3 separate regions of the Homo sapiens genome follow, and regions 2 and 3 are each linked to region 1. The links come from fine-mapping of genetic effects on gene expression. A gene starts in region 1. Each other region holds a variant in brackets. All regions are shown on one strand. Distances are between the middles of the regions.

Region 1 (4,246 bases):
TCCAGAGGGACAATGGGCCATTATTTAACTTGTTTTTTCCAGGTGATCCAAGGGAGGTCTTACTTCTCAATAGGAGACAAGTGACTTGATTTCAACACGGATGGGAGAAATTGGGAGGTGAAATTGGGAGAAACATGGAAATACTGGTGATGTATACAAATCCAGACTTTTATCAAACAGAGCAATTAGAAAACTGTATCTTCATAGGCACCCAATATTTTGTTATGTCTCATTTAAAATTCATTAAGTACTTTATTTGTAAATATTGTGATTTTTCCTAATTATAAAAGTATACATGACTGATGAAAAATTGAGCAATACAGAAATCTATGTTAAATATGATTTGAAGAGAGAGAGAGAGAGAGAGAAAGCTCCTCCCTTATCTGGTCTGAACCTCACACCTTCACCATTCTTTGATGAGTCCATTTGACCAGCTTACTTTTCCAAGAAAAATTGAAAAGGATTCCATTTATAAATTATTGACCTCAGAGAAATTTTCTAACTCTGCTTTGGAGGTTATGGGCAACCAACCAACTCTGTTCACCGTAGACTCTCGGTGCTAAACCAAGGAAAGTCCAAAACAAACCAGTGCATTTTGTCACTTTAGTTTTACATAACTTCCAAGTGAACCTACAGAACTGAAGCCTGATCCTTGAACTTGCTGCTTTGTTCTAATACTGTGGGATATTATTATTTTGCTCTTTCCTTCAAGGGGAAGCATGAACATCTGGCCTTTTCTTTTTCTTCCTGTAAGTCCATTGGAGATGCAAGATTTTAAGGAGCAGGAGGATGGGGGGGGAAGGACACCCTCTTGCATGTAAGTCATGTTATGACTCCTCTCTACTTGACCTCATTGTGTAAGGAGGGCTCAGGGCCACCTGTTGAACATGAACACTGTCTTCAGGAAATTCTTAGCTCTCACCTGCCTTTCTCGCCATGTTGCCTCAAATATGACCCTCAGGTAAAGGCTGCATCTCCTTGGGGAAAAACACACTGAAGCTCCTAGAAGCCACAGACCAGTTTCTCCTCTCTCCCAGTGTTACTGCAGTGGCTTCTGCCTTGTCTTTAGTGAGCAGCTGTGGCCCCAGGGCTGTTGTGTGGTTAAGTAGGTCCAAATGCGAAAGAGTGGGAGATGTAAGAGGAGCGTCGAATGAGGGCAGCACAGAACAGTGAAATCCTTGCACCTGCCTCCTTGACAGTTTTTGCTGAGAATCAGACAAGCAAGGAATCTCTCACTTATTAGCTGAACACAGAAAGACTTTGGGGATAAAGCTGGTCTGAGAATTATAAAGGGGTTTTGAAACAGAGACAGAGGTGTGTATACACCTATTCATTCTTGAATTATCCTTAGACTATTACTACAAAGTGGCTTTCATTATTCTCCTTTCATGGTATAATGGAGTGATTAGGAACATGAGCTTTGGAATTCCACCCCACCTTCACTAAGTAGTGGCTGTGTGACCATGGGCAAGTCACTCCATTGCTCTGAACTTCTGTTGCTTCTTTTTAGACATAATATTATCAAATGCGTATGACTGTTGTGAAAATTAAATGACACATAAAACACTTACAAGCCTAGCCCATTGCTCTCAATAATGGGGACTAATATTATTAATCTTAGGTTGCAGGTGATGAGATTGAAGTTCCTAAAGTTTAAGTAATGAATCAAAGGCCTGAGTCAAGATTTAAATCCAGGTCTGTTGATGTCCATACTCGAGTAATGTTTAAACTTACAGTAGTTACAAGGAGCATCAACCTTCCTCAGCAAGATTTGACCAGGTTGAAAGGTTCTGAGATTGTTTGGATAACATTTCAAGATAATAATAAAAAAATTCCATAGTGTTGTTAATATCTGATGAACATCTACAAAGAGGCAGACATCGTTTCAAGTATTTTCCTATAATAACTGTCATTGTATAACATTATTGACTCTTTGAGGTATATACTACTAGCCTTTCCTTTTTACAGATGTGGAACTGAGGCACAGAGATATAGAACCCTGGCAAAAGCTGGGGCTTATACTGACTGACAAGACCATTTCCAACCCAAACATTCTCAGGGAGGGAACTGGCAGCCAGTGCCCCAGCAAACTCTCGCACATGGTTCTACACTCAGGCCCCCCTGAGCTAAGCTTCCTAAAGAGCCAGGTGGCAGCTGGAGCTGGGGTCTCCTGGCCCATGATTGGCTGCCATCATTTGTGGTTAGCCCTCCATGGTGGGGGAGGCTGGGAAGGACAGTGGAAGCTGATAAACAGCTCAGCAGCATGTTCTGAGAAACAAGAGGGCAAGGAGAGAGCAGAGAACACACTTTGCCTTCTCTTTGGTATTGAGTAATATCAACCAAATTGCAGACATCTCAACACTTTGGCCAGGCAGCCTGCTGAGCAAGGTAACACTCATACTTTTCATGCCTTGAGCCAAAATATTTATTACATTTTTATGTTTCTAACTAGAAGTGCTTGAGCTTTTTTTCCTTCCAGGTGATGAGGGGATGGAATGAGCAAAGCTACATCAATTTTTTTTTAATGTATGAAAATAAAAAAGGTACAAGAGGCCAAGTTTAGGGCCACTGAAGGTTCATAGAAAGATGCAAAATATCTGAATTACTATAAATGAATGCTATTGTCAGAGGAAAGGTTTAAGGAGTGCTTCTTGAATGAATGTGTACAAATCAGCAGAAGGTAAGGTGTGAGACTCTTGGAAATGAATACTGGTAGTTCAGGTGAGAAAAATAATCAGGAACATAATAGGGTGGGAGGAAATGTATGGTTTCCCAGGTATTAACAAGTATTGCCAGGCATTTCCTGAACTAGATTGGCCTAAGTAGGAGACCAATGTTTCTCAAAATATTCACTCATTTTAGAATCACTGAATGTTTAAAAATGCAATTTCTGGATTCCTTCCCAAACAGCCAGACTCTTTGGGACCTGATGATCTGCATTTCTTTTTAAAAACAAACTCGCTCATGATTCTGATTTGTATTAATTTTGAGAATTGCCATGGTAGAGACCCTGCTTTGAGGTTATGTTCTTGAGTCAGGATTCCTGGCCAGGGATTGTGATGATATATTTCTCTTTCTGAAGTGGTTCATGCAAGAGGTTGTCTGAAGGAAGAGCAAGAATTGTAGTGTTATTTTGTGGATACTTGAGACTTATAAAAAGGCTTTTTATTTTGTCACATTTTTGATACATGATGTTTGGCAAAAAACAGACGATAGTATTTGCAGAGTGAATGAATAAGTGGAACAGGTGTGATAATGAGAGGTCACACTTGAGCACACAGTTATTACTTGGAAATTGTGTACAGACTAAGTTGAAGATGTTAGGAGGGAAGATTGTGGGCCAAGTAACGGGGTGTATGTGTGTGGGTATAGGGTGGGCAGCTGGGATGGAAATGGGGGGCTGCTGCTGCTGCTGCACCCTGGCCTCCTGAACTAATGATATCACTCACCAGAAACTACTGTTCCTGCACTGTCCAAGCCACCCCAAACTAGTTTGTCAAAATGAATCTGTGCTGTGTGGAGGGAGGCACGCCTGTAGCTCTGATGTCAGATGGCAATGTCGAGATGGCAGTGGCCGGTGGGGACAGGGCTGAGCCAGCACCAACCACTCAGCCTTTGAGATCCCGAGGCTGGTCTACTGCTGAGACCTTTTGTTAGAAGAGAGGAGATCAAGCATTTGCAAGGTTTCTGAGTGTCAAAATATGAATCCAAGATAACTCTTTCACAATCCTAACTTCATGCTGTCTACAGGTCCATATTTTAGCCTGCTTTCTCCATGTTCATCCGAAAAGAAAGAAAAGCTAAGGGTGGTGGTCATATTTGAAATTAGCCAGATCTTAAGTTTTTCTGGGGGAAATTTAGAAGAAAATATGGAAAAGTGACTATGAGCACATATACAGCTAGTCTTTAAAACAGTTTTATCCAAAATAAATGTATCACAAAATTAATAAAAATAGTTACTTGCTTGTTTTGAATAATTCAAATGATACAAAAATTAATAAAATAAAAAGTGCAAAAGGCCCTCTTATCAATGCCAATTCTATTTTTTTCAGAAATTAAACACTGTTAAGATTTTAGTGTGTATCCTTTCAGAATTCCTGTGATTTCATATATGTACAAATACAAACGTATCTACATAAAGGGAATCCTACTATACTTGCTATTGTCATTCTATTCTCTGCTTTTTCATGTGAGCATCTTTCCATGTCACTGATGCATACAGAAATTGCACATATGCATCAGTGCA
Region 2 (4,246 bases), 36 kb before region 1:
ATTTCATTTTGGTATAAGGTTAATATTGGCTTTACAGAATGAATTGGGAATGGTTTTTTTTTTCTCTTATTTTCCGGAAAAGATTGTGTACAATTGATGTCGATTCCTTATTAACTATTTGGTTGAATTCTTCAGTGAAACCATTAGTTCTGGAGATTACCTTTCTTAAAGTTCTTTAAAATTACAAATTCAGTTTCCTTAATAACTATGCAACTACTTAAATTATTTCATTTTGGGTTAACGGTGGCTGTTTATGTTTTTTGAGGAATTAGTCCATTTTCGTCTTAATTGTTAAATTTATATGTGCAGAGTTGTTTGTTTTTATTCCCTTATTTTGCTTTTTAAATCTGCAGGGTCTATACTGATATCCCTGTTTCATTCCTGACATTGGTAACTTATTACTTCTGTTTTTCCTTTGTTCATCTTGCAAGAAGTTTTGCAAATTGTGTCCATTTTATTGACATTTTCAAATAATGAGTCTTTGTTTTATTGATTTTCTATATAGGTATGCCTTTTCAATTTCATTGATTTCTGCTCCTCTTTTTATTACTTCTTTCCTTCTGCTTGCTTTGACTTTATTTTTCTCTTCTAGCTGTAGGTTCTTGAAGTAAGAGCTTACATTTTTTATTTGAGACTTTTTCTCTCTTCTAATATATGCATTTAGAGCTACAGATTTCCCTCTTATCACTGCTTTAGTTGTGTCCTATGAGTTATAAGTTGTATTCTCATTTTCATTCAGTCTAATGTATTTTTAAAATTTCTTTGAAATTTTTTCTTTGACCCACTGGTTACTTAGGAGTATGTTGTTTACTTTCAAAGTGTTTGGATATTTTTTTCTAACTTTTTATTATTGATTTCTAGTTTAACTTCATTTTAGTCAGAGAACGCACTTGATATGCTTTGATTCTTTGAAATTTGTCGAGTTTCTTTATGGTTTTTCTTGATATATTTTCCTTAGGGCCTTCAAAAGAATGTGTATTCTGCTGTTGTTGGATGGAGTGCTCTGTAAATGTTGTTTAGCTCTTACTTGTTGATGGTGTTGTTGAGTTCTTATATCCTTGCCAATTTTCTGTCTAGGTATTACATCAACTTCTCAGAGAAGGGTGTTAAAGTCTTCAACCATAACTGTGGATTTGTCTATTTCTCCTTTCAGTTTTTTCAGTTTTTGTTTCACTTATTTTTCAACACATTGTTTGATGCATACACATTTGTTTGGTGCATACACATTTAGAATTGTTGCATCATCTTGATAGATTAAGGGTTTTTTTTTGCATTATATAAGCTCCCTCTTTGTGTTTGGTAATTTTCTTTACTTTGCATCTATTTTATCTGCTATTAATATAGCTACTTACTCTTGCTTTCTTTTGGTTAATGTTTACATGAAAAATTTCCCATTATTTTACTTTCAACCTGTCCTTATTATTATATTTGAAATGGGTTTCATATGGACAACATATAGTTGAATGTTTTTTAATCCACTTTGTCAATCTCTGTCTTGTAATTGGTATATTAAGGCCATTTTCTTAATGTAATTATTGGTATGTTATGGCTTAAGTCTGCTATTTTATTAGTTGTTTTATCTCTGTGTTTCATTTCTCTGTTTTCTTTTTTCTGTGAATTGCTTAAACATTCGTTAGAATTCCATTTTGATGTTTTATATAGTGGTATGTCTTTTTGTATAGATTTTTAACGTTTTTGCTCTAGGCATTACATTATATATATGTATATATATGATTTATATAAACAGTCTATACAGTCTACTGGTATCATTTTACTAATTTGAG[C/T]GTAATGTAGAAAACGTAACTCCTTTACATTTCACCATCAAACATAATTTTGGTGATGCTTTCGCCATCAAACATAATTTAGAAAACGCAAGAGGAGAAGGGAAGTCTATTGTATTTACTGATATTTTAGTTACCATGTGTTTTTTTCTGATGGTACAAGATACTTTGCCATTTCCTTTCTGTTTAAAGAACTTCCTGTGGCCATTCAATAACCTTTTTTCTTATCAAATGACGTGAGCTAGAAACTTTCAAAATATTTTATACTTTATTGCAATGCAAATGGAAGTCTTCCTTCTTCCTTCTGACTTTAATGGAATGCTTCTAATTTTTTTTTCCATTTAGCATGATGTTGCGTTTTAGATTAAGGAATGCTGATATATTTTTATCCACAAAATACCTTTTCATTTCTTAATTCTCCATTTATCTCTCAGGAAAGTAATGTGATTTCTAGGGCAGTTATATATATTTCTTTTTAAGATTATTTCTAGATATTTCATGTTTTTATTGCATTTATTACTGAGATATACTCCCCAAATATATCTCCTTTTGAATTTTCTTTCAATATATTATTTTGAATAGAAAATCACTAGAAATATTGGAAAAAAAGAAAGATATGGAGAAAAAACTGAAAGTTATTTTTAATATTCTAAACTAGAGATACTATGTGTTAATATTTTATGTGTTAATATTTTATCTCTGTCATTCCAGTCTGTCTGGAATATTTTTATGTGTTTTGTGGGAAGTATTATATGTGTTAATTTTATGTTGATCATTTTTAAATATCTATATTTATATTTTACAAAAATGGTACCACATTAGTATATGATATACTCTTTCCATCTAGCAATATATTATGAACACTTTTCTATTTCATTCAATAGCATAATTTTAATAACTTCATCTATGACAGTGCTTTCCAGAAATTTGTCTCTAGTACAGAAATCCACCTTATCTGTGGTTTTGCTTTCTGTGGTTTCAGTTATCCATGATTAACCGTGGCCCAAAAATATTAAATAGAAAATTCCAGAAATAAACAATTTATAAATTTTAAATTGCACACTGTTCTGAGAAGTGTGATGAAATCTTACCTGGTCCCTTTGCTCAGCTTATTTGCTGCTGTATATGCTGCCTGCCCTTCAGTCACTTAGCCAGCCACCTGTGTTATGAGTTTAAAAGATCTCAAGAAGAAAAGTAGGTACAGTACAATAAGATATTTTGAGAGAGAGAGAGAGAGACAGACAGCACATTTACATTAACTTTTATTACAGTACATTGTTATAGTTCTATTTTATTATTAGTTTATTGTTAATATCTTACTATGCCTAATGTATAAACTTTATCATAGGTATAAATGTATAGGGTAAAACTGCTGTATATATTCTGTTGCATATGCAAGAAGCTATTATAGTTGCAGAACAGTTTTCTGGGAGGTTGGACCAGCCCAATTGTTCCCTTTTTTTCACGTGTAGTTCTCAAGAGTAGCTGCAGAATGTGCTAGGAATGCAACATCCTGAGATAAGAGGGAACTAGCCACAACAACCTCGGTTCTGTTCTGGTTCCCCATAGAAACAGGATGTCCTTCAACACGTAGGCCCAGCATGTGATGTGACCCCATGGTATAAAACCCGAGGAGGGGGTGCTACTTTCTGGGGTCCCTCAGCTGCTGTGCTAGTTGAGTACTCGTAAATAAGATTCCATTTGCCCTGGGCAACTTTCCTGAGCCTTGCGAGATCAGCTTACAATGAATCCTCAGCTTATATTGCCCTTGTTGCCCATCTGTAAGTAATAAACCCAATTCATGTAACGGGTGTGTGCCTGTGTTCTGTCGAATTGAACTGAGGCATATTGGTAAGCAGTGCACAGTGCACCTACTTAACATTCAGGGGCATTAATTTTATATGCCCTTTACTAAACTTTTGTGAACTCAAAGACTTTTCAGTTTATTCATAAAATGTCTAAATAGGCAACCAAATGGAAGAAGAATAATGATAATTTTGTCTCTTCCTTTTCATGGATTATTTTTTAGTTCTGTTTCATGTCATGATCTCAGCTAAAATGTTTAGACAATGTTGAATAATGGTGAAAGTGTTTTGTTTCCCTTATCTCCCTCTGTTTTTTAAATGGGGATGCCTCTATTCTTTCCTTGTTAAGTAGTATTCTGGCTGATGTTTGATTTGCGATAGTAATCATTATTATTGATATTGAGATAAGCATCCTTCACTTTTGATTAAGGTGATCGTATGTATGATATTAATTATATTTAATTATTTATTAGTTACTAACAGATGTCCTAATATCCATCCAAGCATCCAGATAAAATTTCCACTTTTTAAAGTAATATTACTTTTTTCAGGTTTTGGTAAAGGCTTACACTTGATTCCTGAAGGTATTTTTAGCTCTTTAAATAACCTAAATCAAATGAATGTAGCATTATAATTAGCTTTTCCTAAGAATTTTGAAAA
Region 3 (4,246 bases), 140 kb after region 1:
TGAAGAAGCACAGAGAGGTTAATCACATGCTGAAGGTAGAGCTAGAAAGTGACAGAGCTGGACTTTCAGCCTAGGTAGCCTCGCTCCTGGATCCATGTGCTTAATCACTGAGCTGTCTCCCAAACTCTTTTGTCAAGGGAAGACATGAGCCCATAAGTCCCTGGATGATGTCTGTTTCTTTATCTTAGCCATTCTAAAGTAAGTCACTCCAATGCTATGTTTGGTTTAAAATAGGGGATGAGAGGAAAGGATATTTTCCTTGTGTCTGTGAATTCCAGGTGACAGTGAATAGACAAGGAGGAAATCAACAGGAACTGAAGGATTCCAGGATGCCTATGATGCTGGCTGGACCTTTGAGGATGAGCTAACTGCATTTGAGGGAATACTGTCTTATTAGATCTAAAGGTGATGTTACTGACCTGTGTCTTTCCTCATTAGCCTGTCCCTGGAAATGCTGGACAGCTGAAGCCACGATGACAAAGGAGAAGATTAGAGGCAACTGAGACCTAACCAAGTCACGGACCTGGAAGATGAAAAGGTGAGTCTTGTTTGAAATTGCACCTCCTGGGCCCACTTCAATGCCCGAGCTTTCAGGCAGAATTGTGGTGCACACACTTTTCTTTATTTTTAAAGGTAAAACATTGATTGTTCTGGAGACAAGAAACTCACCTTAGCTGTGAACTAATGCCTCAGTCGAATGTAGGGTTCAGTGTCTCCATGGCTTTCTAACCCCTGGGCAATGTTTTATAGCAATTACCTGTACAACCAGTTGCTATAGTTACCTATTGTCTATGCTTCAAGAAGAGAAATATCTAGCTAAGCTAGTTAGCAGAAGAAATAGGTGCTGAAGTCTAACAAGAAAGAATGGGACATGCAGAAAAAAAATATTTTTACCCACATAGTGACAAGTTTAGAGCATCTAGCCTACTTACAGGCCAGTGATCATAGATCTGTATCTCCTTTTCCAAGTGAATCATCCCAATTCACAAAGATGAGCCCAAAGCAGCCATGTTTAAAATAGGTGGCCACAGTGCCACCTAGTTGTAACTGATTGGATCAGGGTGAACACCTAACCCAGGCTGGGGCAATCCGATTCTGTTGCCTGGAAATCAGGACTGAAGTCTTTCCAGTCTGTCTGGATAAATGGCAGGGCCTGTTCTATGCAAGCTCGAAAGAGTGGGGACCATTTTCTATCTTATGGAATGAGGAAAAAAAGAAAGCATACCTGTGGAGGGAGAATAAGCCTATTTGCAGAGGAAGCAGTGAGAGGAAATGTAGCTTAGGAGTTTTTTTTAGTTCCTGTCCCTTTCTGAAGCAGGGTTGCATTTCTGCCTTAGAGCATTTTCTTTCTTTCTTGTATTCATTATTATTATTACTCATTTTTCGTTCTTACTGGCATGAATTAGTTTCCATCACTTCTCACTAAAACTTACATGGTGCTCCAGTGTAAGTTATGCTCAAGGCACCTGTGATGGGTTGAATTGTGTCCTCTTATAATTATATGTTGAAGTCCTAACTCCTAGTGCCCCAGAATGTTACTGTATCTAAGGCCAGGGTCTTTAAAGGGGTAACTAAAGTGAGGTTATTAGGGTGGGCCTTAATCTACAATGACTGTTGAATTTATAAGAAGAGATTAGGACACAGGCATGCATGGAGGAAGACCTTGTGAACATACTCATCTACAAGCCAAGGACAGAGGCCTCGGAAGAAATCAACCCAGCCCACACCTTAATCTCAGACTTCTAGCCTCCAGCATTGTGAGAAAATAAGCTTCTGTTATTCAAGCTATCCAGTCTGTGGGACTTTGTTAGGTCAGCCCAAGCAAACGAATGCAACTGCTATGTACGACATGAGACTATAATTCCTCCTCCCTCTGCCCGCACCAAAGGAAACTTGATAATCAACTAACTGCTATTCTTTTCTTAATAGTGATCCATAAAAACAATAGCAGAAAGATTTTTTACTTTGGCTAAAAAGCCAATAACTGGCATTCAAGGCCCCTGATGGAGTATAGCTCTAAAGGAATACATCTTCTTAATGCTCTTGTTTGGCTTAAATTAAAAGTGTTCAGCTTCATGCCTTCGCAAGGAAAGGTGCCTGCTAAAGCTTTAATTTTACATGGGAAAATGATTGCTTTTTCACTAATTGGAATGAATGGGAACCCTTTCTTCAATTCATTTAAACTCAGGTGAAAACAAAGTGAGTCACTTTGCAGAAAGAAGTACAGGAACTTGCAGATTCCTCCCTACCACCCTTGAGTTCTGAGATCAGTGTACAAAAAGTCACTTCCATCAGTTATCCTCACATTAGAGAATTAGGCAGAGAAAAGCATCCAGGTTTCTCTCACTTTTAATCAGGACAAGGTATAGGAAAATGCTGTTGACATTTCAAAAAAAGTTGAGAGAAGTGAAGGTCAAGAGTGAATAGAAAAAGATGTTGATTTAACTGAACTACG[G/A]TGGCACTTAAGAGGTCGCTGAGCAGAGACAAGGTGCAAAGGAAATAGGAATAGCTTATAGACTGGTAACACAATATGTGCCAATAGAAGCAGCCACCGAAAGGATTCTGTCATTTGTGTGTGTGCCCCAAGGCAGTTTTGGTTTTTTTGAAAGGAGGAAAGGAGGATTTTATTTGGAACATGTGGTGTTCACATGTTCCTGCAAAGGAGAATAGACATGGCAAATAAGTTTCAACTCATGTGCAGCTCTGAATATGTGGATTATTATCTCCCTGGAGAATTGTGTTGGGATGCATTCTGAGGAAGGAGCATCAGTTAAGGAGAATTAATGAATTAATATGAATGTGAATGTTGTGCACGTGCATTGGTGGGACCAAAAGTCAATCACTGATGGCCCTGGGTCCAAGCGGGCTCTGTGAGAGGTTTTTAAAAATTTTTGGCCGGGCGCGGTGGCTCACGCCTGTAATCCCCAGTGCTTTGGGAGGCTGAGGCAGGCGGATCACAAGGTCAGGAGATTGAGACCATCCTGACTAACATGGTGAAACCCTGTCTCTACTAAAAATACAAAAAATTAGCTGGGCATGGTGGCGGGCACCTGTAGTCCCAGCTACTTGGGAGGCTGAGGCAGGAGAATGGCGTGAACCTGGGAGGTGGAGCTTGCAGTGAGCCGAGATCATGCCACTGCATTTCAGCCTGGGAGACAGCGAGACTCCGTCTAAAAAAAAAAAAAATTATTTCAATAGTTTTTGGGGAACAGGCGGTTTTTGGTTACATGGATCAGTTATTTAGTGATGATTTGAAATTTTGGTGCATCTGTCACCTGAGCAGTGTACATTGTACCCAATATATAGTTTTGTTTGGCCCAGCTGGTCTTTTAAAAAGATTTGAACTAAACATTTAAGAGTAGAGATATTTCATTTTTTTTTTTTTTGCCCCCTACCCCTACCCTTCCACATTTTCAGTTTCTTTTATAAACTCCAGCAATACTGGGTATTTCTGCATGACAATGGCAGGATGGAGCTAGGTAGTAGCTCAGTTTAAGCATGGCCCCTGTGGACACTGGGCTGTGTGATCCCAGGCCCTAGGCTAATTATACCTTCTGGGCTCAGGGTTCATGTGGCTGTGGATTGAGGATGTGGCTAGCAGATGGCCTCAAAAGTCAGGAAGTGCTGAAATTTTAAGACTATTCCGGCCTAAAAAGCAGAATAAAGGGTTGGCAAGTATGGCCAAAGCAGATGTCTTTTAGTAGTGTGAACAAGACCAAGACCACAGACCGTAGTGTTCCCAAAATACATGCTGACTGCAGTCTTTTCTGGAGGGGATGGGCAGTCCAAAGTTCTGTGAGGAGAAAGCTGTGACCTATACAGTCTAGATTCTGGAGAAGTCCTCTTTGCTCTATTTATGTTACTTCTGGGCATCATCTTTAATGGGTGCAAAAGTGACACATCCCATCAATCTACCATTTTTATTCTTCGATAAAAAAATGGAATTAGTAGTATAGATTAAGCCACTTCTTCGAACTCTAGATCCACATGTCCAACTGTCTATTTCCTATCCTTGCTGTTTTTGTCATATAATTCAAGCATTAAGTGTCCAAAATGAAACTCATTCTTCCCTTCCTTCCCCACGAGATCTGGTTCTTTCTGGTGTTTTTATCTCAAGGAATAGGACTTCCTCCATTCAGCTATAAAAACCAGGAAGCTCTTGCTCTTTATCTGCTATCCCCTCACCCTTTATCCAAACATGAATCCCAGTCAATTTTGCCCTAAGTACCTGTTGAATCTTCCCACT

Alleles and levels. Positions count from the first base shown, and alleles are read on the strand shown. Sizes are in standard deviations (SD) of each study's normalised expression. Not every link is listed here.
For the expression in ileum of the gene that starts at base 2,273 in region 1, C is the high allele of the variant in region 2 and T is the other (small effect, 0.34 SD a copy in GTEx).

Evidence for each region. PIP is the estimated chance that this variant, and not a neighbour inherited with it, causes the effect. A credible set is the group of variants that fine-mapping cannot tell apart.
Region 2: its variant is the best candidate, but not a certain one, in a credible set for the expression of RAG1 in ileum (GTEx, PIP 0.83).
Region 3: its variant is the best candidate, but not a certain one, in a credible set for the expression of RAG1 in thyroid (GTEx, PIP 0.83).

The regions. Positions count from the first base shown.
Region 1 is chr11:36,565,735-36,569,980 of GRCh38, forward strand. RAG1 (recombination activating 1) reads left to right here and starts at 2,273. Exons shown (of 2, transcript NM_000448.3): 1 at 2,273-2,388.
Region 2 is chr11:36,529,800-36,534,045 of GRCh38, forward strand. It overlaps a transcript of RAG1 not described here. Among named protein-coding and RNA genes, the nearest start is that of TRAF6, 22 kb to the left of the region's middle. The variant C/T (reference allele first, on the strand shown) is at 1,785.
Region 3 is chr11:36,710,270-36,714,515 of GRCh38, forward strand. LOC107984326 (a long non-coding RNA gene) reads left to right here. Exons shown (of 4, transcript XR_001748187.1): 3 at 439-538. LOC105376631 (a long non-coding RNA gene) reads right to left here and starts at 721. Exons shown (of 3, transcript XR_931199.3): 1 at 670-721; 2 at 420-523. The variant G/A (reference allele first, on the strand shown) is at 2,456.